2 separate regions of the Homo sapiens genome follow, and region 2 is linked to region 1. The links come from fine-mapping of genetic effects on gene expression. A gene starts in region 1. The other region holds a variant in brackets. All regions are shown on one strand. Distances are from middle to middle.

The links.
Region 2: its variant is fine-mapped to the expression of CARMAL in esophagus muscle (GTEx, PIP 0.93).

Annotation. Positions count from the first base shown.
Region 1 is chr15:89,033,303-89,050,032 of GRCh38, reverse strand. It overlaps CARMAL (coronary artery disease region linked MFGE8 regulatory lncRNA), which reads right to left and starts at 9,035. Exons shown (of 4, transcript NR_183882.1): 1 at 8,733-9,035. It also overlaps a transcript of ABHD2 not described here. RefSeq lists an enhancer at 502-1,053.
Region 2 is chr15:89,074,858-89,087,222 of GRCh38, reverse strand. CARMAL (coronary artery disease region linked MFGE8 regulatory lncRNA) reads right to left here. Exons shown (of 4, transcript NR_183882.1): 3 at 11,839-11,927; 4 at 2,994-4,732. It also overlaps a transcript of ABHD2 not described here. Among named protein-coding and RNA genes, the nearest start is that of ABHD2, 7.4 kb to the left of the region's middle. RefSeq lists an enhancer at 1-4. The variant G/A (reference allele first, on the strand shown) is at 8,369.

The DNA.
Region 1 (16,730 bases):
ATGTAGTCCAGGAAGGGAGTTAGTGTTTGGTGGGCAACTTTTATTTTCTGCTCTGTCACAGCCCTGCCCAGAGCCCACTACTTGCACATTTGGAGGAATAGAAAAGAGAAAAATACGGGGGAGGAGCCAAGATGGCCGAATAGGAACAGCTCCAGTCTACAGCTCCCAGCATGAGCGATGCAAAAGATGGGTGATTTCTGCATTTCCATCTGAGGTACCGGGTTCATCTCACTAGGGAGTGCCAGACAGTGGGCGCAGGTCAGTGGGTGCGTGCATCATGCGCCAGCCAAAGCAGGGCGAGGCATTGCCTTACTTGGGAAGTGCAAGGGGTCAGGGAGTTCCATTTCCTAGTCAAAGAAAAGGGTGACAGAAGCCACCTGGAAAATCGGGTCACTCCCACCTGAATACTGCGCTTTTCCGACGGGCTTAAAAAACGGCGCACGAGGAGATTATAACCCACACCTGGCTCAGAGGGTCCTACGCCCACGGAGTCTCACTGATTGCTAGCACAGCAGTCTGAGATCAAACTGCAAGGCGGCAGCGAGGCTGGGGGAGGGGCGCCCGCCATTGCCCAGGCTTCCTTAGGTAAACAAAGCAGCCAGGAAGCTCGAACAGGGTGGAGCCCACCACAGCTCAAGGAGGCCTGCCTGCCTCTGTAGGCTCCACCTCTGGGGGCAGGGCACAGACAAACAAAAAGACAGCAGTAACCTCTACAGACTTAAATGTCCCTGTCTGACAGCTTTGAAGAGAGCAGTGGTTCTCCCAGCATGCAGCTGGAGATCTGAGAACGGGCAGACTGCCTCCTCAAGTGGGTCCCTGATGCCTGACCTCCGGGCAGCCTAACTGGGAGGCACCCCCCAGCAGGGGCAGACTGACACCTCACACGGCCGGCCGGGTACTCCAACAGACCTGCAGCTGAGCGTCCTGTCTGTTAGAAGGAAAACTAACAAACAGAAAGGATATCCACACCAAAAACCCATCTGTACATCACCATCATCGAAGACCAAAAGTAGATAAAACCACAAAGATGGGGAAAAAACAGAGCAGAAAAAATGGAAACTCTAAAAAGCAGAGCGCCTCACCTCCTCCAAAGGAACGCAGTTCCTCACCAGCAACGGAACAAATGACTTTGACGAGCTGAGAGAAGGAGGCTTCAGACGATCAAATTACTCCGAGCTACGGGAGGACATTCAAACCAATGGCAAGGAAGTTGAAAACTTTGAAAAAAATTTAGAAGAATGTATAACTAGAATAACTAATACAGAGAAGTGCTTAAAGGAGCTGATGGAGCTGAAAACCAAGGCTCGAGAACTACGTGAAGAATGCAGAAGCCTCAGGAGCTGATGCGATCAACTGGAAGAAAGGGTATCAGTGATGGAAGATGAAATGAATGAAATGAAGAGAGAAGGGAAGTTTAGAGAAAAAAGAATAAAAAGAAATGAGCAAAGCCTCCAAGAAATATGCGACTATGTGAAAAAACCAAATCTACGTCTGATTGGTGTACCTGAAAGTGACGGGGAGAATGGAACCAAATTGGAAAACACTCTGCAGGATATTATCCAGGAGAACTTCCCCAATCTAGCAAGGCAGGCCAACGTTCAGATTCAGGAAATACAGAGAACGCCACAAAGATACTCCTCGAGAAGAGCAACTCCAAGACACATAATTGTCAGATTCACCAAAGTTGAAATGAAGGAAAAATGTTAAGGGCAGCCAGAGAGAAAGGTTGGGTTACCCTCAAAGGGAAGCCCATCAGACTAACAGCGGATCTCTCGGCAGAAACTCTACAAGCCAGAAGAGAGTGGGGGCCAATATTCAACATTCTTAAAGAAAAGAATTTTCAACCCAGAATTTCATATCCAGCCAAACTAAGCTTCATAAGTGAAGGAGAAATAAAATACTTTACAGACAAGCAAATGCTGAGAGATTTTCTCACCACCAGGCCTGCCCTAAAAGAGCTCCTGAAGGAAGCGCTAAACATGGAAAGGAACAACCGGTACCAGCTGCTGCAAAATCATGCCCAAAATGTAAAGACCATCGAGACTAGGAAGAAACTGCATGAACTATCGAGCAAAATAACCAGCTAACATCATAATGACAGGATCAAATTCACACATAACAATATTAACTTTAAATGTAAATGGACTAAATGCTCCAATTAAAAGACACAGACTGGCAAATTGGATAAAGAGTCAAGACCCATCAGTGTGCTGTATTCAGGAAACCCATCTCACATGCAGAGACACACATAGGCTCAAAATAAAAGTATGGAGGAAGATCTATCAAGCAAATGGAAAACAAAAAAAGGCAGGGGTTGCAATCCTAGGCTCTGATAAAACAGACTTTAAACCAACAAAGATCAAAAGAGACAAAGAAGGCCATTACATAATGGTAAAGGGATCAATTCAACAAGAAGAGCTGACTATCCTAAATATATATGCACCCAATACAGGAGCACCCAGATTCATAAAGCAAGTCCTGAGTGACCTACAAGGAGACTTAGACTCCCACACATTAATAATGGGAGACTTTAACACCCCACTGTCAACATTAGACAGATCAATGAGACAGAAAGTCAACAAGGATACCCAGGAATTGAACTCAGCTCTGCACCAACTGGACCTAATAGATATCTACAGAACTCTCCACCCCAAATCAACAGAATATACATTTTTTTCAGCACCACACCACACCTATTCCAAAATTGACCACATACTTGGAAGTAAAGCTCTCCTCAGCAAATGTAAAAGAACAGAAATTATAACAAACTATCTCTCAGACCACAGTGCAATCAAACTAGAACTCAGGATTAAGAATCTCACTTAAAACCGCTCAACTACATGGAAACTGAACAACCTGCTCTTGAATGACTACTGGGTACATAACGAAATGAAGGCAGAAATAAAGATGTTCTTTGAAACCAACGAGAACAAAGACACAACATACCAGAATCTCTGGGACGCATTCAAAGCAGTGTGTAGAGGGAAATTTATAGCACTAAATGCCCACAAGAGAAAGCAGGAAAGATCCAAAATTGAAACCCTAACATCACAATTAAAAGAACTAGAAAAGCAAGAGCAAACACATTCAAAAGCTAGCAGAAGGCAAGAAATAACTAAAATCAGAGCAGAACTGAAGGAAATAGAGACACAAAAAACCCTTCAAAAATTAATGAATCCAGGAGCTGGTTTTTTGAAAGGATCAACAAAATTGATAAACCGCTAGCAAGACTAATAAGAAAAAAAGAGAGAAGAATCAAATAGATGCAATAAAAAATGATAAAGGGGATATCACCACCGATCCCACAGAACTACAAACTACCATCAGAGAATACTACAAACACCTCTACGCAAATAAAACTAGAAAATCTAGAAGAAATGGATAAATTCCTCGACACATACACTCTCCCAAGACTAAACCAGGAAGAAGTTGAATCTCTGAATAGACCAATAACAGGAGCTGAAATTGTGGCAATAATCAATAGCTTACCAACCAAAAAGAGTCCAGGACCAGATGGATTCACAGCCAAATTCTACCAGAGGTACAAGGAGGAACTGGTACCATTCCTTCTGAAACTATTCCAATCAATAGAAAAAGAGGGAATCCTCCCTAACTCATTTTATGAGGCCAGCATCATCCTGATACCAAAGCCGGGCAGAGACACAACCAAAAAAGAGAATTTTAGACCAATATCCTTGATGAACATCGATGCAAAAATCCTCAGTAAAATACTGGCAAACCAAATCCAGCAGCACATCAAAAAGCTTATCCACCATGATCAAGTGGACTTCATCCCTGGGATGCAAGGCTGGTTCAATATACGCAAATCAATAAACGTAATCCAGCACATAAACAGAACCAAAGACAAAAACCACATGATTATCTCAATAGATGCAGAAAAGGCCTTTGACAAAATTCAACAAATCTTCATGCTAAAAACTCTCAATAAATTAGGTACTGATGGGACGTATTTCAAAATAATAAGAGCTATCTATGACAAACCCACAGCCAATATCATACTGAATGGGCAAAAACTGGAAGCATTTCCTTTGAAAACTGGCACAAGACAGGGATGCCCTCTCTCACCACTCCTATTCAACATAGTGTTGGAAGTTCTGGCCAGGGCAATCAGGCAGGAGAAGGAAATAAAGGGTATTCAATTAGGAAAAGAGGAAGTCAAATTGTCGCTGTTTGCAGGTGACATGATTGTATATCTAGAAAACCCCATTGTCTCAGCCCAAAATCTCCTTAAGCTGATAAGCAACTTCAGCAAAGTCTCAGGATACAAAATCAATGTACAAAAATCACAAGCATTCTCATACACCAACAACAGACAGAGAGCCAAATCATGAGTGAACTCCCATTCACAATTGCTTCAAAGAGAATAAAATACCTAGGAATACAACTTACAAGGGATGTGAAGGACCTCTTCAAGGAGAACTACAAACCACTGCTCAAGGAAATAAAAGAGGATACAAACAAATGGAAGAACACTCCATGCTCATGAGTAGGAAGAATCAATATTGTGAAAATGGCCATACTGCCCAAGGTAATTTATAGATTCAATGCCATCCCCATCAAGCTACCAATGACTTTCTTCACAGAATTGGAAAAAACTAAAGTTCATATGGAACCAAAAAAGAGCCTGCATCGCCAAGTCAATCCTAAGCCAAAAGAACAAAGCTGGAGGCGTCACACTACCTGACTTCAAACTATACTACAAGGCTACAGTAACCAAAACAGCATGGTACTGGTACCAAAACAGAGATATAGATCAATGGAACAGAACAGAGCCCTCAGAAATAACGCCGCATATCTACAACTATCTGATCTTTGACAAACCTGAGAAAAACAAGCAATGGGGAAAGGATTCCCTATTTAATAAATGGTGCTGGGAAAACGGGCTAGCCATATGTAGAAAGCTGAAACTGCATCCCTTCCTTACACCTTATACAAAAATCAATTCAAGGTGGATTAAAGACTTAAACGTTAGACCTAAAACCATAAAAACCCTAGAAGAAAACCTAGGCTTTACCATTCAGGACATAGGCATGGGCAAGGACTTCATGTCTAAAACACCAAAAGCAATGGCAACAAAAGCCAAAATTGACAAATGGGATCTAATTAAACTAAAGAGCTTCTGAACAGCAAAAGAAACTACCATCAGAGTGAACAGGCAACCTACAAAATGGGAGGAAATTTTCACAACCTACTCATCTGACAAGGGGCTAATATCCAGAATCTACAATGAACTCAAACAAATTTACAAGAAAAAAACAAACAACCCCATCAAAAAGTGGGCGAAGGACGTGAACAGACACTTCTCAAAAGAAGACATTTATGCAGCCAAAAAACACATGAAAAAATGCTCACCATCACTGGCCATCAGAGAAATGCAAATCAAAACCACAATGAGATACCATCTCACACCAGTTAGAATGGCAATCATTAAAAAGTCAGGAAACAACAGGTGCTGGAGAGGATGTGGAGAAATAGGAACACTTTTACACTGTTGGTGGGACTGTAAACTAGTTCAACCATTGTGGAATTCAGTGTGGCGATTCCTCAGGGCTCTAGAACTAGAAATACCATTTGACCCAGCCATCCCATTACTGGGTATATACCCAAAGGACTATAAATCATGCTGCTATAAAGACACATGCACACCTATGTTTATTGCGGCATTATTCACAATAGCAAAGACTTGGAACCTACCCAGATGTCCAACAATGATAGACTGGATTAAGAAAATGTGGCACATATACACCATGGAATACCATGCAACTATAAAAAATGATGAGTTCATGTCCTTTGTAGGGACATGGATGAAACTGGAAATCATCACTCTCAGTAAACTATCGCAAGAACAAAAAACCAAACTCTGCATATTCTCACTCATAGGTGGGAATTGAACAATGAGAACACATGGACACAGGAAGGGGAACATCACACTCTGGGGCCTGTTGTGGGTTGGGGGAAGTGGGGAGGGATAGCATTGGGAGATATACCTAATGCTAGATGACGAGTTAGTGGGTGCAGCACACCAGCATGGCACATGTATACATATGTAACTAACCTGCACATTGTGCACATGTACCCTAAAACTTAAAGTATAATAATAATAAAAAATTAAAAAAAGGAAAAAAAAAGAAAAGAGAAAAATACAAAGAGGAGGGGAACAAAACTCATAGATGAATATATCAAAATATTTATCCCAAGCTGATATACCTTGTAGATTGCCTTCAACTCTAGATCTCCTCCTCCTCCTTCTTCTTCTCCTCTTCCTCCTCCTCCTTCTCCCCCTCCTCCTTCTCCCTCCTCTTCCTCCTCCTCTCCTCCTCCTCCCCCTCCTCCTTCTCCTCCTCCCTCTCCTCCTCCTCCTTCTCCTTCCTCCTCCTCCTCCTCCTTCCGCCTCCTCGTCTCCTCCTCCTCTCCTCCTCCTTCTTCCTCTTCTTCTTTTCTTCCTCTTCCTCTCCTCCTCCTTCCTCTTTCCCTTCCCCTCCTCCCTCCTCTTCCTCCTTCCTCTTTCTTTTCCTCCCCCTCCCCCTTCTTCCTCTCCTTCTCCTTCTCCTTCTCCTCCTCCTCCTTCTTCTTCTTCTTTAAAAAAGAGATAGGGTCTTGATCTGTTGCCCAGGCTGAAGTGCAGTGGCACAAAGATAGCTCACCCTAACCTTGAATTCCTGGGCTAAAGTAATCCTCCCACCTCAGCCTCCTCAGTAGCTGGGACTACAGGCATGAGCCACCATGCCCAGCCCAAACCCCAGCTCTTCTGCTGAAAGCAAACTTGCCCCCCTAGGGTGCTAGAAGAGCTCAGGCAGGGTTGGCTGCCACCTTCTGAGGGACTGTATGTCTTACTTCTGTCTGTCTTCTCCACAGCCCTGTTGGTTACCTTTTCCTAGCTACTCCCATGGTTTTGGGAAGAACATTTGTCAGAATGGTGAAGGGAGGGCCCCTGGGGCTCATCCCAGTGGTCAGCATAGGCATCAAAGCAGATTACGGCAAGCCGTGGAATATGTACTAGTGGAGGAAACAAATGGTGCTGGGCAAATTAAGAAAGAAGGTATAGGCCGGGCGCCGTGGCTTATGCCTGTAATACCAGCACTTTGGGAAGTTGAGGCGGGTGGATCACTTGAGGCCAGGAGCTTGAGGCCAGCCTGGCCAACACAGTGAAACCTTACCTCTACTAAAAATGCAAAAAAAGAAAAAAAGAAAAAAAAAATTAGCCAGGCTTTGTGGCACACACCTGTAGTCCCAGCTACTTGGGAGGCTGAGGCATGAGAGTCACTTGAACCCGGGAGGCAGAGGCTAGAGTGAGCCAAGATCACCCCACTGTACTCCAGTCTGGGCGACAGAGCAAGACTCTGTCTCGAAAAAGAAAAGAAAAAACAAAAAGTCTCCAAAATAAATAAATAAATAAATAAATAAATAAATAAATAAATAAATAAGAAAGAAAGAAAGAAAAGGAAATAAAAAAGAAAGAGAGAAGGTATAAATTTCCAGGTGGGAAGTAACCAGGACAGGAAATCTTCATGGAGGAGGTGGCACTCGGTGTAAGGATTTAGAAGAGATAAGACGGAGGGAAGGCAGGAATGATGGTCTAATTGGGGAGCAGAGAGGGTGTACTTGGAGCATGTGCTTCAATAAGAAAAGTGTCTCAGTTTTTAAGCTAATGTTGACCTGGTAAAAAGATGTTTGAGGGAGTAGGGTAAAAGCAAGACTATAGTGTTATGGAGAAGGTGGCTGAAATCCTCAATAGTGTCACTGAGTGGTCCTAAGCAGGCTCTGGATCCAGGCTGCCAGGGTTCAAATCCTGGCTATGCTATGCAGCTGCTGCATGTTCTTCAGCAGGTTACAAAACCCCTCTGTCCCTTGAGTCCTCAGCTATGATGTGGAGACAATAATGTACTGGTGTCCAAAAGTGGCTATGAGGATAAGTTTAGAAGTTTAGAAGTATAAAGGGCTTAGATGAGTGCTCGGCACATAGTAATGCTCACTGTATGTTTAGCAATAATGGTGATGGTGATGGATAAGATAAAGATGGACGCCCCTCCCAACCAAACACCCGGGTGACCTCTGGTTCCGACCCCCTCCAGGCCCTCCTGCCCTGATGTTTGACCTCAGCTATGCCTCTGATTCCAGGTAGGGGAAGATGCTTATGCCCTTCCAGGTCTCAGGTTGCTTATTCTGTGACCATCTGACCCCTAGCAATGCTGTCTCAGCCCCTCCAGGCCAGGTCTGGGTGCCGTGGGCCCTGCTGATGAGGTGGTGTGTCATGCCTGGTCAGCAGGGCAGACCGAGGGGCAGAGCTGCTTTCCCCAGCAGGGGAATAGAGTTGCGCCTTGCCTCAACTCTGCCTCTCACTGGCCTCAGTTTTCTTCTTAGTGGACTCCTAGGACATCTACCCAGATGCCCGGACAGAGGCACAGGCTTGGCTCAGGTCTTCCAGCCAATGAATAGCCAAGGCCGGATTCACACTAGGACAGTCTGGCTTTTAACTGCTGCACTAAGAGTCACTGCAGTAGATCCAGACATCAAGGAAGGTTCCCAGAGTCCTGGTGCCTCTGTGCCCTTAGGCGGGTGAATACTGATGGGTGGAGACAGAATTGTTACAAATATATAATAAATAAGTTATAGTAAAGCAGAATTCAATCCGAAACTCAGAAGAAAAGCAGTCCCCTCCATTCTATTGCAAACCACCTCTAAACTTCGTGGCTTAAAACCACAAAACTCACATTTGCTCATGATTCTGCAACGTGGGCAGAGCTCGGCAGCGGCAGTTCATCTCTGTTCCACATGGCATCAGCTGAGGCTGCTCCACCGAGGCTGCAGGATCCAGTTCCAGAATGGCACACTCACGTCACTGGAAGTTGATGCTGGCTGGCAGCCAGGGCCTCCTCTTGGCCTCCTTACACAGTTAAGTTAAACTTCTGCAGCACAATAGTTGGGTTCCAAGTGGGAGCATCCCAGGAGGAAGCATCCCAGGCCAGGGGTAGGCACTTTTCAAGCCTCTGCTGGCATCTTCTTGCTAGAGCCCTATTGGCCAAAGCTTGTCAGCTGACCAAGCCCAGAGTCAGTGTGGGAGGAGACTACACACAGTGGTGAATACTGGGAGCTGTGGTTTACCGAAGTGTCTGTCTGTCTGAACTTCTTTTTCCTAAGGCTCGCTTTGGTGCTCCTCACATTCTCCCATCAGCCTCCTCTGAAACCTGGTTCCATCCAGTATCCTCTCTCTCACCTCGTCCATTGCTCCTTCTTCAACGAATCCCTCCTTTCAGCCAACAGACCCACTCAAGCCACAGCTATCCCCGAACAGCTCCGTTCAGCCCTGCGTCTCCCTCAGGGTGCCGTCCTGTCTCCCTCCATTCCTTTGCTTCCAAAACCCTTCAAATAGCTGCTGAATGCTGGAAGCAGAAAAAGTTCCCTAAAGCCAATTTGCTACATTTATGAAATATTCTAGGCTGGGCACTGTGTCTCACGCCTGTAATCCCAACACTTTGGGAGGCCAAGGCGGGCGGATCACAAGGTCAAGAGATCAAGACCACCCTGACCAACATGGTGAAACCCCGCCTCTCCTAAAAATACAAAAATTATCTGGGTGTGGTGGCACGCACCTGTAGTCCCAGCTTCTTGGGAGGCTGAGGCAGGAGAATCGCTTGAATCCAGGAGGCAGAGGTTGTAGTGAGCCAAGATCGTGCCACTGCACTCCAGCCCGGCAACAGAGCCAGACTCTGCCTCAAAAAAAAAAAAAAAAAAAAAGTGAAATATTCTGATTTGTCCATTCTAAAGAATTTTTTCTTTAATGTTTTCAATGAATACGAATATATACTGTTAATGAATGCATTAGTAAATATATTCAAGAATATACTCTTATGAATATAAATAAAAATCTATTGATAAGAAGTCTAAACTACTCGATGACTCTTAGGTTCCAGCAAGCCCATAGTCTGTGAATAGATTCACAAGTGGAATATATTCATATTCACTGAGAAAAACTTTCTTCAAAATTTTTGACAAATTTGCCAAAATTGGCACACATCTCTTAATTAAAAAATTTCATCCCTCCTTTCTTCCATCCATTCATCCATCCAACGGATATTTATTTGAATGCCATGACATGCTCAGCACTGGGGCATAGTGTGGTTGAACACAGACCCAGCCCCGGCCCTCATAGAGTTTACAGTCTAGTAGGGGAGACAGTTACTCATTAAGTGATCATTTCAAACAAACCCTGAAACTGGCCGGGTGCCATGACTCATGCCTGTAATCCCAGCACTTTTGGAGGCCAAGATGAGAGGATCACTTGAGGTCAGGAGTTCGAGACCAGCCTGGCCAACACGGTGAAACCCCGTCTCTACTAAAAATACAAAAATCAGCTGGGTGTGGTGGCGGGTGCCTGTAATCCCAGCTACTCCGGAGGCTGAGGCAGGAAAACTGCTTGAACCCAGGAGGTGGAAGTTGCAGCGAGCTGAGATCGCGCCACTGCACTCCAGCCTGGGTGACAGAGTGAGACTCTGTCTCAATTAAAAAAAAAAAAAGAACACTGAAATTGCAATCTTGACCAGTGCTACCATACCTTTTCCAGCTCATGACACGCCCTTTGGCACGCACTGCTTTGGAATTTTGATCATACTGCTCCCTTTGCTGGCAATGCTCTTTCCCGCTTTCCCTGCTTGGCATATGCAGCTTAATTTTAAGACCCCAGTCAACAGCGCTCACTGTGGCTCTGGCTCCTATCCCCAGGAAAGATGAACTGCTCCATTATTTATGTTCTAGCAGCACTTGGCATAAACTTCTAGCAGTGAACATATCAAACCATAATATATTATATCTGTGTCTCTTCTATTAGATCGTAAGTGCAATAGGGTCAAGAATTCTGTCTTCAGAGGCTTGGGTGGAGTGAGTGTGCATGTTTAAAAAGAGAGAAGTTTACAAAAATGTTTAAAAAGAAAGAAGTCGGGGGGTGGGGGGCGGGTGGGCAGGCGCAGTGGCTCACGCCTGTAATCCCAGCACTTTGGGAGGCAGAGGGGGCCAGATAGCTTGAGCTGAGTTTAAGACCAGCCTGGGCAACATGGTGAAATCCCATCTCTACAAAAACATACAAAAAAAAAAAAAAAAAATTAGCTGGCTGTGATGGCAAGCACCTGTAGTCCCAGCTACTCAGGAAGCAAAGGTGGGAGGATTGCTTGAGCCTGGGAGGTCGAGGCTGCAGTGAGCTGTGATCGCCCTTTGCACTCCAGCCTGGGAGACAGAGTGAGACCCTGCCTCAGAAAAAAAGGTATCCTTACCTGACATGGAAAAATTCCTCTGGGCACCCATTAGGGGACAGACACCTCCATTTACACTCATCCTTTTAAAGCCTCTTATAATTTGACCCACAATATAGACATCAAAAATAAGCTTGAGGGAGGCCCAGCAGCCATGGTGGCAGACAGGGCTGGCAGGTAAGGCTCTGGTGGCCACTGACTTGAGGGAGAGCAGCCTGCTGACCTCAGCCAGGGCTGCAGCAGTGGGGCCAGTGCCAGACAAGGTGCTCCAAGGGGCTAGGACCAAGTGCAGTCATCTTTGCCTCTCTGGCATCTAGCAGCATTGACTAGATGCTCACACACTCGAGAAATACGTGTTAAGTGAACGGTCCCTGTGACAATCAAGCAGACTTTTTTCTTTCCGATGACACACCTCCTCTGGCCGCCACTGTCACCCTGCAGAGCAGAATCACTCTTCTGCGGGGAAGCTGGAAGGGAAACAGGCCAGGACAGCCTGGGTGAAGCAGGACTGTGTTTTGATGAGCTGAGCAAGCCTGGGTGCGGGACCCTGAGGTTACGTAGCAGACCAGGGACCCCAAGGAAGACTGCATGGATTTTGTGGGCAAAATCAGTCCATTTCAGAAATAGTTGGTGGTTTAATTGAGCCTGTGGACCAACTTGCAAAAGCAGCAGAAAATGAGAAGAGGAAGGTAGTTGGTGCTTGGAACTTGCTCCAATTTATGGCAAAACACAGAGAAGCCCAACAGCAACAACTTCTAGCACAAACAGCAGAAGAGAAAATGTGGCTAAAAAGGTGGTGGATTGAATATGAAGCCTCGTGGAAAGTAGATGCACAGAAGGAAACACATTTATTGGCCAGTTTATTTTCAGATGTGACTAACGACCTGAGTATGTCGTGTGAGATGCAGTGTGAGGAATACAGCCTTTCTGAAGGTGATAATACAAATCTGGAGGGGGCTTGTTTTAAACTTTAGCGCATATCTGCTGGGGAACATTGGTGCCATGTAGCCGGCAGCCACGGCAGTACAGGTACTCATCTCTGGCATTCTTAGTCTGAACTGAACAGTCTGTAAACGTTGATCTTTTTGTTTTTTTGTTTTTGTTTTTGTTTTTTTTCTGTAAATTCACAAAGACTTGGAAGGAAGAGCAATAAATTATTGTTTTCCAAACAAATAAACTTGAGAGAAAAATAATCCTTTTTCTCTCTTTTTTTTTTGAGACGGAGTCTCGCTCTGTCGCCCAGGTTGGAGTGCAATGGCGCAATCTTGGCTCAGTGCAACCTCTGCCTCCCGAGTTCAAGTGATTCTCCTGCCTCAGCCTCCTGAGTAGCTGGGATTACAGGTGCCCACCACTATGCCCGGCTAATTTTTGTATTTTTAGTAGAGATGGGGTTTCACCATGTTAGGCTGGTCTCGAACTCCTGACCTCAGGTGATCCGCCTGCCTCGGCCTCCCAAAGTGCTGGGATTACATGCATGAGCCACTGTGCCCGGCTGAGAGAAAAATAATACTTTTATGTATATGCTTTTATAGGCACAAGATATCTCTAGAAATATCCATGAGGAACTCTCATATTTCATCAGATCTAAGATGCCCTCAATTATAAGATATACCATTGTTGCATGCACAAGAAAGAAAAAAGACTGCTAAACGGAGAGGCAAAAGATTCAGAATAGCCAACACAATGTTGAAGAAGAAGAAGAAGTCGGAGGACTGATACTACCCAACTTCAAGGCTTACTATAAAGCCACGGTAATCAAGAGACTGTGATATTGATAAAAGAATAGGCAAATAGATGAATAGAACAGAATAGAGAGCCCAGAAACAGACCCACATAGCTATACTCAACTGATGTTTGATAAAGGAGCAAGGATAATACAATGGAAAAAAAGACAGTATTTTCAACAAATGGTCCTGGAACAACTGGACATCCATATGCAAATAAAAAAAAAAAGAATTCAGACACAGACCTTGCACCCTTCATAAAAATGAAGTCGAAATGGCTCACAGACCTATATGTAAAGCACTAAACTATAAAACTTCTAGAAGACAACAAAGGAGGAAATCTGGATGATGTTGCGTATGGACATGACTTTTTTGATGCAACACCACAGGCATTAACCATGAAAGAAATCATTGATAAATTGGACTTCAATAAATTAGAGAAACTTCTGCTCTGTGAAAAACACTGTCAAGAGAATTAGAAGACAAGCCACCAACTGGGAAAAAGTATTTGGAAAAGACACCTGATAAAAGATTGTTATCCAAAATATACAAAGAACTGTTAAAGCTCAACAATAAGAAAATGAACAACCCAGCTGAAAAATGGACAAGCGACTGGAACAGACACCTCACCAAAGATTTTACAAATGAAGTAAGCATGTGAAAAGATGCTCCACATCATGTGTCATCAGGGAACTTCAAATTAGATCAACAATGCGAGGACCCAAACACGTGTGTTGCTCCACATCCTCACCAGCATTTAGTGTTGTCAGTGTTCTGGATTTGGGTCATCTCATTGAATCAGTGTGAATGAATGAACTCTCATTCATTGCTGATGGGAACGCAAAATGCTACAGGTTCTTCAGGCTCTTTGGAAGACAATTTGATGGTTTCTTTTCTTTTTTTTTTTTTTTTTTTTTGAGACAGGGGCTTGCCCTGTCACCCAGGCTGGAGTGCAGTGGCAAGATCACGGCTAACTGCAGTCTCTAACTCCTGGGCTCAAACAATCCTCCCACCTCAGCCTCCTGAATAGCTGGGACTACAGGCATGTGCTACCATACCAGGCTAATTTCTAAAACAAAAATTTTGTAGAGACAGAGTCTTCCTATGTTGCCCAGGCTGGTCTCAGACTCCTGGACTCGTGATCTTCCTACCTTGGACTTCCAAAGTGTTGAGATTGTAGGCATGAGTCACCACTCCCAGCCTAATTTGGCGGTTTCTTACAAAACTAAATATACTTTTACCATATGAACTAGCAATTGTGCTGCTTGGTATTGACCCAAATGAATTAAAAACTGGTGTCCACACAGAAATCTGCCCATGGATGTTTATAATCAGCTTTATTTATAATCATCAAAATGTGGAAGCAAGCAAGATGTCCTTCAGTAGGTGAATGTGTAAATAAACTATAGGTACTTCCAGACAATGGAATATTATTCAGCACTAAAAGAAATGGGCTTTGGGTGATAATAATGTGTCAATGTAGGTTCATTGATTATAACAAATTTACCTCTCTGTTGCAGAATGTTGATAGTGGGGGAGGCTGTGTATGTGTAGGGCCAGGGAGTGTATGAGAACGCTCTGTACTTCTAAATTTTGCTGTGAACTAAAACTGCTCTAAAAGATAAAGTCTATTTAAAAAAAGACTGCCAGTTAACTATATGACATGATGCCATAACGACAGCCTTGCATGACACATGATTGATCACACCAGCCCTTCATGGCTTTGAAATTTCTTGCATCTATTCTGAGAGATCTGGCAATTTCCCCAGTCTTAAATTGCATTGTCTGGCATGAATTTGAGTAGGTAACATTCCTTTTTCTCTTTTGGGTATCTTCCACTTTGGGGTCCTCAAATGGACCAAGCATGCATCAGCAGCATCAATATCACCAGAGGGCTTGTTAGAAACGTGGAATCTGAGGCCAGACGCCGTGGCTCACACCTGTAATCCCAGCACTTTGGGAGGCGGAGGTGGGCAGATCATGAGGTCAGGAGTTCGAGACCAGCCTGGCCAACATGGTGAAACCCTGTCTCTACTAAAAGTACAAAAAATTAGCCAGGCGTGGGGGTATGTGCCTGTAGTCCCAGCTACTTGGGAAGCTGAGGCAGGAGAATCGCTTGAACCCGGGAGGCTGAGGTTGCAGTTAGCAGAGATCGCACCATTGCACTCCAGCCTGGGTGACAGAGCAAGACTCCATCTCAAAAAAAAAAAAAAAAAAAAAAAAAGAAATGTGGAATCTGACCCATGCCAGACTTAGTGAATCAAAATCTGTGTTTTATCCAGATCCCAGCGGATTTGTGTGCACATTGCAGTCAGAGAGGTACTGCTGCTGAAAACCTCTCAATGGTTGCTCTGCAAGAAAATATGGAATGGAAATCATTACTCTAACAATTCATAAATTCGCTTCACTAATATCAATTTTGCACCTCACTGTTGTTTCTGTAACTTTCTGCATCCACAGTGACCTTTCATTTAAATGCTGATAGTACCGTCTTTTTGAAGATATTTTAAATAGCAAGTAAAGTCAGCGCATGTAGCGTCAACAATGCACATAAATCATTTGAAATGATGACAATACCAAAGCTATAGCCAAGTTTGCTCAAGTGCAGGCAATGGTATCAATGTGATGAGAGCCACCTAGCTGACAGCTATTGTAAGACACATCCTGATTTCAGAGATGTTAAAATGTGAAAAAACATGTATATCTTAGAAGTCAATGAAATATGGTAACAAAATAGGCTGCTTCTGGGGTAGGAACTGGATGGCTAGAGAATAAATGGGAGGGAGATATTTCATTGTATCTTCTATTTTGTAATCCCAGGACCCAAACCCCAAATCTCTGAATCACTTGTGTACTACTCAGTGATAGTAGACACTGTTTTTAATGTAATTTAAGATTGACTTGGCTTGGTGGTGGCTTATATCTGTAATCCCAGCACTTTGGGAAGCCAAGGCGGGTAGATCACCTGAGGTCAGGAGTTCAAGACCACCTTGGCCAACATGGTGAAACCCTATCTCTATTAAAAATACAAAAATTAGCCAGGCATGGTGGCGGGCACCTGTAATCCTAGCTATTCGGGAGGCTGAGGCAGGAGAATTGCTTGAACCCAGGAGGTGGAGGTTGCAGTGAGCTGAGAACGTGTCATCATATTACAGCCTGGGTGACAAGAGCGAGACTCTGTCTCAAATTAAAAAAAAAAAAATTGCCTTGGCTTGGCTGGGTGCAGTGGCTCATGTCTGTAGTCCCAGCACTTTGGAGGCCAAGGCAGGAGGATCACTTGACCCCAGAAGTTCGAGGAAACATGGCAAAACCCCATCTCTACAAAAAATTTAAAAGCTAGCCAGGCATGGTGGTGCTTGCCAGTGGTTCCAGCTACTCAGGAGGCTGAGGACGGGAGATGGCTGGAGCCTGGGAGGTCTAGGCTTCAGTGAGCTATGATCACACCACTGCATTCCAGCCTGGGCAACAGAGCAAGACCCTGTCTCAAAAAAAAAAAAAAAAAAAAAAAAAGACTGACTTGCCTTTTTGGAAGGCTCTATGTTTCAAGGTTATAGTAAAAAACAAAAGAAAACAAAAATCTCTAAAACTTCGGAGCCTTTTCCACAAATACTATTAAATGACTTATGCTCCTCATTTGTAACTGTTTTTTTTTTTTCTTATTTGGGTGTGAAGGGATGGGTGGAGATGATGGGAAGGCTTACATTTATCCCTGTTGAATAAGAGGCTGTTGGAGTCAGCCCAC
Region 2 (12,365 bases), 39 kb before region 1:
AGCGTAACCAAATAACATCCTTTGAAGGCTGATCAGCACCGGACCAGAAATCATTGCATGAGCTCTATCTGTCAGAGACCCCTGAAACCCATTCCCCATTCTGAAGGTGTAGACATCACAGAGTGTGGACAGAAATAGCTTCTCAGGCCTGAATGTAGCCCCAGACCCTTTGTGTCTGTCTTTGAAAGAACTCACAGCCATGGTACATCAGAGTGAAGGAGAAGAAAGAATCCTTTGCCATTGCTCTATTTTTCATTCAGTTGTCATGTTACCTTGAAAAAAAAAGGTTTCATCTCAGTGTTTATATATTCCTCTGTATTCTCTTTCATCTTGGAAAAGAAAAACCCAGGCTTCAGTAGCAAAGTCTCTTAGTGATGAACCCCATCGTCCTGACTCTGAGTTAAAACAGTTTGGACTTCCAAAAAAGAGCTTTAGATTATCACTAGATAAGTATATAAGGTAATGCATATGTTAACTAGCTTGGTGTAGCTATCCCACAATGTATACATGTATCAAAACATGGACCGGTACAGTGGCTCACGCCTGTAATCCAACATTTTGGGAAGCTGAGGCGGAGCCCAGGAGTCTGAGACCAACCTGGGCAACATAGTGAGACCCCGTCTCTACAAAAAATTTAAAATTTAGCCTGATGTGGTGGTGCATGCCTGTAGTCCCAGCTAGTGGGGAGGCTGAGGCAGGAGGGTTGTTTGAGCCCAGGAAGTTGAGGCTGCAGTGAGCTGTGATCGCACCACTGCACTCCAGCCTGGGCCACAGAGTGAGACCTTGTTTGACAAATAAACATAATAACATGATAAACATAAATAAGTAAAGCATGTTGTACATCATAAATATATACAAATTTTGTCAATTAAAAATTAATAATAATTTAAAAAATAGGCTGGGCACAGTGGCTCAAGCCTGTAATCCCAGCACTTTGGGAGGCCAAGGCAGGAGGATCACCTGAGGTCAGCAGTTCCAGACCAGCCTGGCCATCATGGTGAAACCCCATCTCTACTAAAAATACAAAATTAGCTGGGCATGGTGGCACACACCTGTAATCCCAGCTACTCAGGAGGCTGAGGCAGGATAATCGTTTGAACCCAGGAAGCAGAGGCTGCAGTGAGATTGCACCACTGCATTCCAGCTTGGATGACAGAGTGAGACTCTGTCTCAGAAAAAAAAAAACAAAAAAGATTTGTCACTAGTTTTGGAGGGGTGTGTACACATATCTATGTACACATTTGGTTCTGATCCACAGTTTTCTGGTTCTTGTCTTTAAACAGTGCTGCTTGGTAGCCATACACATGGCTGCATGCATGTTACGGAAATAGGCCCAGCCCAATACAGGTTTGCTTCTGCCTGTGTTTGCTAAGGGAAAGTGAGATGTCTTGTTAGGCCCTGAAAAGCATGAAGTGGCTCCTGAGATCCAGGATGATTTCTCCAACTTGATTCAGAGCCACAAAAAGCAGCTGTTAGGAGTAGATTGCAGATGGGCTCGCCATTGTGTAAATGGCTTTTTTCTCCCATCTCAGGAACATAGGTTCAGCCACCAGTTCCAGAAAAGGACATCTTTCCAGTTCAGGAATTCTAAAACACAATTATGTCACAGAGGCTCAAAAAGAGGCACAGACTGAGCTCAGGAAGAGGAGGAAGAGTAAAAGGATCCGGGCATCTTCTCTGCAGCTCTGGCAGGCTTAAAGAATGATCCATTATCATTTCCCAGCACACAGAACTGTTTCCTTAATTGTCTCTGGTTTCTGTTTCCTCCCTTCTGCTTGCAGTCTTGCCATATTCTGTTTAATCATATTATTTCATTCTATAAATCATTTCTGAGGGAGGCCATTTAGGAGACAAAATGGACTTATTTTTGCCTTCAAGTTTAGTGGCCCGTTGGGATTGAGGATTTGGTGAGCCTTGGCCTGAGATAAGCAGGTGTTGGGATGTGGCTGTAAAGTGAATTTTCAAAACCGTGACAGTACCTTGTAATAAAAAAGAACAAGGGAGAGGGTATGCCCCAGTCACCTTCTGGGATGGCCAAAGCTGCAGGACTTCATTAAAGCAGAACTGCTTCTAACTCAACTGGGGCCTCTGCAGGATTTACTAACCTGAGAAAGTCAAGGTACTCTGGGAGACAGCAGGGAGCAGTGGTTGGAGCAGATAATATGTTCTATTTATTCTTTTAAGGAAAATCAGCAATTCACTCAGTTTGTCATTTTTGTTATTCTGTGTCCTCGGGGGATGGTTCAGAGAAAGGGGATTTGGAAGCTCTACTGCTGGGGATTGGATCCTGATTCCATCCTTCCTAGCCTTGTGACCTTGGGCGAGTACAGCACATCTCTGTGCCCTACTTTCTTCTGTAAAACGCAGAGGACAGTGAAGTGCTTGTCTCATGGGGTCCTTTGAGTGGCAGATGAGTTCACAGATGCAAAGTGCATCAAACAGTACCTGGCAAATACCTAAAAATGTTTAATAAATGTTTGCCACAGCTATTATAGGAGCCCATTTCAGAACCTTCCTCTAAGGTCCTCACTCATTTTCTAAGTTCTAGCCCTCAGAAGTAGTGATCACAGGATTCAGGATTTTTAGAAAATATAGATAGACTTTATTTTTTAAAGCAGTTTTAGGGCCAGGCGCCGTGGCTCATGCCTGTAATCCCAACACTTTGGGAGGCTGAGGTGGGCGGATCACTTGAAGCCAGGAGTTTGAGACCAGTCTGGTCAATTGGCGAAACACCGTCTCTACTAAAAATACAAAAATTAGCTGGGTGTGGTGACGTGTGCCTGTAATCCCAGCTACTTGGGAGGCTGAGGCAGGAGAATCGCTTGAACCTAGGAGGCGGCGGATGCAGTGAACCAAGATCGTACCACTGCACTCCAGCCTGGGCAACAGAGGGAGACTCTGTCTCTAAATAAATAAATAGTTTTAGGTTTATAACAAAATTAAGTGGAAAGTACAGACAGTTCCTATATACACACTCTCCAACACATGCAGGATTTTTTTTTTTTTTTTTTTTACACTAGCAAAATCTCACCACCTGGTGCGAGAAACTTTTCCTTTCGAATATGGTTACCAAAAACGGTTTGAGGACCGAGTTAAGGTTTTTGAGACTAGACCTCATCAGTGTAATCACTGTGAGGGAAATGGAAAGGATGAGGCTAAGAGAATAATAGTAAAAGCTGCAGCCTGGAGGTTCATAAAGTATTCCTGCAGTCATGACATGGTGCAGTCTGAGGGATCCAATATTGTGGCTTTATTGTCACAGCCGGTGCAGTCTGCATGCAGTCTAGGAAGGAGGTTCAGAATGTCCTGTTACCAGGTCGACTGTCTGGCTTCTTATTGGTAATGGAGATGAAGTTTGTTTAGAGGCTTTAAGTCCCAGCATGCAATAGTTCCATGAGGACAAACTATGATGAAATTCAAAAATGTGGTCCTTTTGTTATTAGAAAAGGCTTTCTGGTGGCCAGTGAAAACGATCATGAAAAATAATCTTGTCTGTGATTTGAGCTGCTTTCTTAAGCTATATGTGAGTTGTCTATAGTAAAATCATAAGATGAACACTCCTGGCTTATGTATGTTGTCCTGGCAAAATTTTAATAGTGCCCTCCCTCCCACCAGGTGACTCTCAAATAGTCCCAATTTGGTTGATAAATTTTATGGTAATATTTATACTTACATATATAGGACCCAGTACTAAAAATGCTCATGAAACACACAAACACACATACACGCACGTGCACGCGCGCACACACACAGATGAAAAAGTGTTCTAATCTTATAATCAGATACATACAGAATATCTGACAGGTGACTGGCTAATGATGACTTCTTCTTAGTCACCATGCATTCCTCTTCCTGATGTCATTCTTAATTACAGAAATAAAAATTGAGTTTTTCATACTATTAATTGCAAAACAGTCGATAAAACTTGTGCATTAAATAAGCTCATCATACACCCTTTCCTACATAATTTTATGTTATTGAGCTATTTTAAAACTATTTCCGGAGAAGGCGAGATGCAGTGTAAAAAAATAACAACAACTACAAAAAACCCACAAAAAAACAAAAACAGGCCGGGCACAGTGGCTCACACCTGTAATCCCAGCAGTTTGGGAGGCCCAGGCGGGTGGATCACTTGAGGTCAGGAGCTCGAGACCAGCCTGGCCAACATGGTGAAACTCCGTCTCTACTTAAAATACAAAAATTAGCCCAGCGTGGTGGCAGGCGCCTGTAATTCCAGCTACCTGGGAGGTTGAGGCAGGAGAATCGCTTGAACCTGGTAGGCGGAGGTTGCAGTGAGCCAAGATTGCACTGAGATTACACCATTGCACTGCAGCCTGGGCAACAGAGTGAGACTCCGTCTCAAAAACAATAACAAACAATTTCCATCTTTCCAGAGACCCCTATATTATTTTACCATATATTTAAATTAATTTACAAGACAGTAAACATTTTTTACTGAGCAAGACATCTAATACTAGAAAGACAGAATCATGAAGTCCCATTCATTCCTAGGTGGGGATGGATATAGGACAAATGGGAAATATTGACGAGATAACTCAAAGGACTGAGCAATAAGCACAGAGTGCAATCAGTGTCAGCAATAATTATTCAGAGGAGGCAGCAATTTCTTCTGACTTGGATTCTTGGAGATTTGAATTGGTTTTTGAAGGTCTATGGGCTGAATTTGGTAGGGCAGCATTGGCGGTGAGGGAGCATGGCATTCCAGGTAGGCCTGTGAGTGGATGAACACAAGATAGTTTGTCCATAGCAGAGTCAAATAGGGACCCAGTAGGCGAGAAGATGAAAAAAATGGATGGGGCTGGTGGTGGAGGCCAGATAATGCCTTCATCTTAGTTAATGGCTTCGTCTCAGCCCCTTGGGTATTTGGATATCCTCGCATAGTTGCAGAGCAAACATCCCAAACTCCAGGCATCTGCAAACCACATTGATAATTTTGACCCTATCTCTGTACTCTCTGCTTTATTATTTACTTAATAATGTTATTAAATTGACTCAACTTTTAAAATTAAATACCTTATTCAGCCCCATCCTAAACCAGTGGTTCTCAACTGGGGGCAGTTTCATCCCTCAGGGGACACTTGACAATGTCTGTGGTTGTCACAACTGCAGGGGTGCTGTTGACCTCTAGTGGGTAGGGGCTAGAGATGCTGCTAACCACCCTCCAGTGCCCAGGACAGCCCCACAACAAAGAATTATCCCAAATGTCAATAGTGCTGAGGTTGAGAAACCTTGTGGGCCGAAGCAATAATATATGTGATATTGCAGGCTTAAAGTGTGATTATAGTTATTCTAATTACATTAAAATCATTTCATAAGGATTACATTTTATTATTTTTATTTATTAATTTTTTGAGACAGAGTCTTGCTCTGTTGCCCAGGCTGGAGTACAGTGGCACGACCTTGGCTCACTGCAACCTCCATCTCCTGGGTTCAAGGGATCCTCCCACCTCAGCCTCCCGAGTAGCTGGGATTACACGCGTGCGCCACCACGTCTGTCTAATTTTTGTGTGTGTGTTTTTAGTGGCCAGGCTGGTCTTGAATTCCTGACCTCAAGTGATTCCCCTGCCTCGGCCTCCCAGAGTGCTGGGACTATAGGCTTGAGCCACTGCACCCGGCCAACTATTACATTTTTAAATATGACATTTTAAATTTATGTTTTTAAATGTTCTTCCATGTGCTATTCTATAATCATCTCTTGTATCACCCACAATGCAGACGTGGCATTTAAGTTACATTTGATTTGTATGCCAGGGTTCATAGCAGCATTATTCATAATGGCCAAAAGGGGGAAACAACCCAAATGTCCATTGATGGATGAAGGGATAAATAAAATTGGTAAGTACAAGTAATGGAATACTATTCAGCTTTCACAGGGATGAAATTGGCCGGTGCAGTGGCTCATGCTTGTAATCCCAGCATTTTGGGAGGCAGAGGCAAGAGGATTGCTTGAGCCCAAGAGTTCAAGACCAGCCTGGGCAATACAGTGAGATCCTGTCTCTACAAAAAAGTAAAAAAAAAAAAAAAAAAAAAAAAAATTAGCTGGGCATGGTGGCGTGCTCCTGTAGTCCCATCTACTTGGGAGGCTGAGGTAGGAGGATCATTTGAGCCCAGGAGGTTGAGGTTGCAGTGAACTGTGATTGTGCCACTGTACTCCAGCCAGGGAGACAGAGTGAGACCCTGTCTCAAGAAAAAAAAAAAAAGGAATGAAATTCTGACAATTCTGACACATGCTGCAATATGGATGATACTTGAAGACATTATGTAAAGTGAAATTAGCCAATCACAAGAGGACAAATACTGTATGATTCCACTTACATGAGGTGCCTAGAAGAGTAAAATTTGGGCCAGGTGTGGTGGCTCACGCCTGTAATCTCAACTATTTGGGAGGCTGAGGCAGGAGAATCACTTGAACCTGGGAGTGAGAGGCTGCAATGAGTTGAGATTGGGCCACTGCACTCCAGCCTGGGCGACAGAGTGAGACTCCATCTTAAAAAAAAAAAAAAAAAAGTCTCCTTTTCTCTTTACCTTATCTCTTTGTTAAGCTGTCAGCCTGCTATGGTATCACATACAGCCGTTAGCCTCCACCAACTGCTGGCTGATTGTTCTTTCGTGTTTGATAATGCCCTGGAGGCATGAATTGCTCCTGTCTTGTACATTAAATTTGGGCCCCTTTGCAAGGGTAATCTTTCAGGTCAGTCTTTGAGACTTATTCTAACACCAAGGGGGCTCTTCTTAGCTGATGCTTTCCCTGGTTCTCTCCAGAACACTTCTAGCTGGTCTACAGTTCAGCTTGTTGCTTGAATGGAGTTCCCAGGCTCCTCTTAATTGCTTACCAACAAAATCTTCATTGTTTTTGAGAACACCCTTACACTTGAACTTTCCCACATTGTGTTCTACATAAAGTGTTTTCTTGGGAAGAACTTCAGAGGTCTCTGTATCTACCGCCTTCCTCTCCCCTTGGGCAAAACCTCTGCACCACTGCTCCGGAGCTTGGGGAACTCAGGCAGAGACAGTGGCCCCCTTATCTCAGGATGACAATCCGGCTTTATGAGCAGAGTGCTGGGCAGAGCAGTAGCTTTTGCTCTTCTGCTCTTGCCTTTCCTGTAAAGAATCTCTGCCCCATGAGCAAGCTGAGGCCAGGGTAACACAGGCTCCAGTATTCTCAGCCTGCCATGGCCGAGGTGGAGTTTCTGCCCTATGATTGGGGGCTAGGTTTACGAAGTGAGCCCCAGATTTATCAGCCAGTCTTGTCCAAAGTAGAGCTTTTGCAGCATGAAGCTGGAGGGTATGAGAAATGCTGGCAGCCGCCCTCCCAGCGAGATATAGTAGCCCTCAACTGAGAGCTGGGGAAAGAGGTAGCCCGTGTTCTCGGCTTCACCTACTTAGAGTAACTTTTCCATCATGCTGAGCTAGAAGAAGGAGGGAGGAAGTCTTTTGTGGTACAAATGTTATTGACTCTCACTGTTCTTACTGAGACTTAGTACATTTTCTTGAATAAAAGTTTATTAATTTGCCGCATCCCCATAAAACAATTTCCAAAGGCTTTAAATAGTTGTGGCTTTGATCTTAAGCAATTTCCAGAGATTATGGTCATTTCACTGGGGAGAGGGTTCATGGAGCTCCTCATGCTGCCATTCAGAAGTCATGGAAACCAAAATGTGTCTGAGACAGATCTCTATCCATGTAGAGGTTTATTTTGCCATGTAGAGGTTTATTTTGCCATGTAGAGGTTTATTTTGCCATGTAGAAGTTTGTTTTATTTCTTCTTCTGGGAGAAAGAAACACAAGTAACCATAGTTCTTCTGGGAGAAAGAAACACAAGTTACCATAGGATCTGTGGCCTGTGCTTTTTCCAAAAAGGGTTTTTCAGGACTTTAGAGAGGAAAGGAAAAAAAGAAGGAAGGGTAAGCAATGAGACAGGAGATTACTTTCCTATGCGGCTTTGATTAGCACTCGCTGAATCTACATTTTACATGTGAAAGGGGCGGGTAGAGGAACAGTCAATTATGTTAGTTTTCTTGCTTGGTAAATCTACATTTTACATAAAATATGTAAACACAGAGTAGAGGAAGAAATCTAATATGCATTTGTCTTGGGTGGGCAGAGGAATTATTTCTAGTCTGGTCTTTGTCTCATACCTGTGAAGATAAGATGTTAATCTACATAGTTGGCCAGGCACAGTGACTCATGCCTGTAATCCCAGCACTTTGGGAGGCTGAGGCAGGTGGATCACTTGAGGTCAGGAGTTCGAGATGAGCCTGGGCAACATGGTGAAATGCCCATGTCTATTAAAAGTACAAAAAATTAGCCAGGCTTGGTGGCAGGCACCTGGAGTCCCAGTTATTCA[G/A]GAGGCTGAGACAGGAGAATTGCTTGAATCTGGGAGGCAGAGGTTGTAGTGAGCCAAGATCGTGCCACTGCACTCCAGCCTGGATGACAAGACTCTGTCTCACAAGAAAAAAAAAAAGAAAAAAAAAAAGCCTACATTGTCAGGGTGAGATTCAACAGAACTGTGTTTTAGGGGTAGTTCATCAGGAGGATATGTATTCTGAAAGATTTGGGACCCACAAAAAATTTCCTTGTAAGCAATTGTGAGGAAGGCCACCTGGGGAGATAGATGGCCTTCCGTTATCACATACTCATTCCTAACTAAGTACCCAGAGAAAAACATGGACAATAACGTTCATAATAGCGCCATTTGTAATAGCTTAAGGTTGTAAACAGTCCAAATATCCAAATGCAACGATCTGTTTAGGAGCAAAAGGAAGGCAGTTTTTGTGTGACTCAGTTTCCAAGCTTAATTTTTCCCTTTGACATAGTGAGTTTGGGGTCCCAAGGCTTTATTTTCTTTTCACAGTTATATGCCCTATCATGATGATTTATTATGAAGCCATATTTTAGTCCAATTAATCTGGAGGCAATGTTCAGAGAAAATTAGAAATAGGAGAGGTTGGAGCCAGGTAGAAGAGATAACAGGTTATTGCATTAGTTTCAATGTAAGTTGTTAAGGGCCTGAACTAGACAGTGGAAGTAAAAAGAAAAGAATAACAGTGATGTGAGCATAGATTCTTCAGGACTTCCCCACAGATTAAATATGGGGTGCAAGAAAGAGAGAAGGGTCAGAGATGATCCCAAGGTGGTTCTAATATGGGAGAGAAAGGTAAATTTACTTTAGATCTGTTGAGATTTTGGTGACACATATATTCAAGGGAAAGGGAAAATATGACATCATTACTAGAAAGGGAGCATTGGTAAGCAGGGGAGAGGCTGAGTTTTGTAGACAAGGGGATTTGGAGTCATAGTTTCTAGGTAACACGTTGCAAAAGCTGTCCACAGTACAAGATAATGGAAGTCATAGGCATAGACAAGTTTCAGAGAGAAAGAAAAGCAGACCAGGTTAACTTGAACTTGGGAGAATGAAACTTGGCAGGAGGAGAAAAACAGTGAAGGAGCTTGAGAAGTTACCACCACAAAGGGAGGAAGGGTTGACAGCTAACATTTATAAAACCCTTACTAAGAGACAAGCACGATTCTAAGAGTTTTAGATTTTTTTAAATATTTAATCCTCCCAATAACTCCACAGGGTGAATATGATTATGCCTGTTTTACAGATTAAGAAACTGAGGCCAGAGAGGTAAAATAATGTGCTTGAGGTCACAAAAGTGATATTAAGTAAACCCAAAATTAAAACCTTGGCAACATGAGCATGCATAATTCTCATTCTTAAGTATGTACCCAAAGAAACACACGGACAATAACATTCACAATAGCACCATTCGTAATAGCTTAAGATTGTAAACTGTCCAAATGTCCATCAACACTAGAATGGATAAACAGATTGTAGAACATTCATATTCAATGGAATACTATGCAGCATTGGGAATGAACAAATCATTACGATAAGCATGCCACCAGCATAAAGGTGAGTGAAAGAAGCCAGTCATCCAAGAAATGTATGCTATGATTTTATTTATATAAAGTTCAAAAAGAGGTAACACATGGCTGTGGTGTGAAAAAGTCACCTGACCTTTGTGAGGTGGTAGAGACTGGGAAAGGGCCTGAGAGGGGGTTCTTGGGTGCCAGTGATGCCCTGTTCCTGAGCTGGGTGGTGGTTACACAGGTGTGTTCACTTATGAAAATTCATCAAGCTGCTCACTTATGATTCATGTACTTTTCTGTGTGTAGGTAACAAACAAAAAGTACTAAAAAACAAGAAAGCAAAATAGAACCAGGGCATCTGATTTGAGGACCTACCCCCTTAACCACAGAGTGATCCAGAGAACAAGGGTCTTTTCTCCTCTTCCACAAAGAAAAATGTGGAAGGGGACCTTATAAAATTATAAATTTAAAAGAAATTGAAGAGATAGATCAACCAAATGGAATGTATGGGTCTTATTAGCATCCAAATGAAAACAAACCGTAGCTGGGTATTATGGATCATGCCTGTAATCCTAGCACTTTGGAAGGCTGGGGCAAGTGGATCACTTGAGCCCAGGAGTTTGAGACTGGCCTGGGCAACATGGTGAGACCTCATCTCTACAAAAATACAAAAAAGTAGCTGGACATGGTGGCATGCACCTGTAGTCCCAGCTACTTGGGAGGCTGAGGTGGGAAGATCACCTGAGCCCAGGAGGTAGAGGCTGCAATGGGTCATGATCGCACCACTGCACTCCAGCCTGGGTAACAGAGCAAGATCCTGTCTCAAAAAGAAACGAAACAAAACAAAACAAAAATTAAACTGTAAAAGACAATAACAAAACAATTGGGGAATGAATATTAATTATATTATGATTATGTTTTATAAAAAGTCCTTCTATTTCAGAGATACATATTGACATACTGATGGATGAAAGAATGTCTGGCATTTGCTCCACAAGAATGAGGATACGAGTGTTGAGATGAAAGATTGGCCATGGATTGATCATTGCTGAAGGTGGATGATATCTACCTGGACTTCACTGTACTTTGTCTATTTGTTTGAGTATTTTGTGAAATAAGAAGTTTTTGCAAAAGAGAAGAAGAAAACTAACGTTCAGTGTGTTCGCAAAGGAACTGATTCCCTTGGCTCCATATTTTTAAATTTGGATCTCCTTTGAGAGAGAAAGAGAGCAAGCACATGGGTCACAGGACTAAAGGAGAAAGGGGACGTGTGGGTGGAGCATGAGCTTGCGATGCCTGCTCCTGTGGTTTTCTCTCTTCCTCTACTCCTCCACTGGAACAGTTCTGGCAAAGGCCACTGTGACCCCCACTCACTGCTGCATCCAGCAGTTGGCTTTCAGTTCTTCTTTACTTGACATCTTGGTAGCTTGGGACTCTGGTGGCCAGGCCCCCTGCTTGGGAAGCACCTCTGGTTTTCCTTTGTCCATTTCACAGCCTGCCCCATGGACTCTTCTTCCTGTGCCTGATTCTTCAGTCCTGGGCCTGTCCTCAGCCTGCTGCTCTTCTTCCCCATACCCTCTTCCCTGGTGGTTCTGTCCTCTCCCAGCGCTTGAGTTGCTGCCAGGGCTGTCTTTCTAAACAGCAGTTCTCACCAACTGATTCCCTTGTGAAGACCCAGGAATAGCTTCCCATTGCCCAAATGATAACATTCAAACTCTTCCTGGAGGTACAGGAGGCCCTTCAGCATCTTTTTTCGCCTCCACTTCCTTTCTACCTTCCCTCTCTAGCCTTCCCTCCTTCTCCTCCCCTTCACACCCTCCGAGTCAGCCAGTGACATTATCAACACTTCTGGAATGCACCAGGCCGTTCCTTGCTCCCATACCTTTGACTCGATCTGGACTACTCACCCACACACTTCCCTACCTGGAAAACTCTACTCACCCTTTGAGACTCTGCTGCAAGCTCACTCCATCCATAAAGGCTTTCCTCATCTTCCTGTGGAGTTCATTCATCCATTCAATCATCCATTCCTAATAGATGTAGATGCAAAGACCTATGATAAGGCTGAGTGCTGGGGGCCAGAACCCACATCATTCACACTTTACCTCACAGTTCCTATCTCAGGTATTGCCTTACTTACATGATAGCTGCTCCCAAGCCCTACCCCTTGAGGCCAAGGAGGGTGACTTATTCCTCTTTGTACCCAAGTGATAGTAGGCACTAAAACACGCTTGTTCAATTGAATTGAAAGAGAAGAATTACCGAGAAAAGGCCTCTGGGTTTGGCCATTCAAACACTTTTGATAAACTTTGGGTGTCTCTGTACTAAAGTTTAGGGTTGGGGGTGAAGGGAATGAGGCTTTTTCTCCTGAGGGTTAAGGAGAAGCCAGGAATTGGTACCGCTGTAGGCCACTTGCTTGAGAAATGTTATCAGTGATATGAGGCAGGAAACAGGATGACAGCAAGATT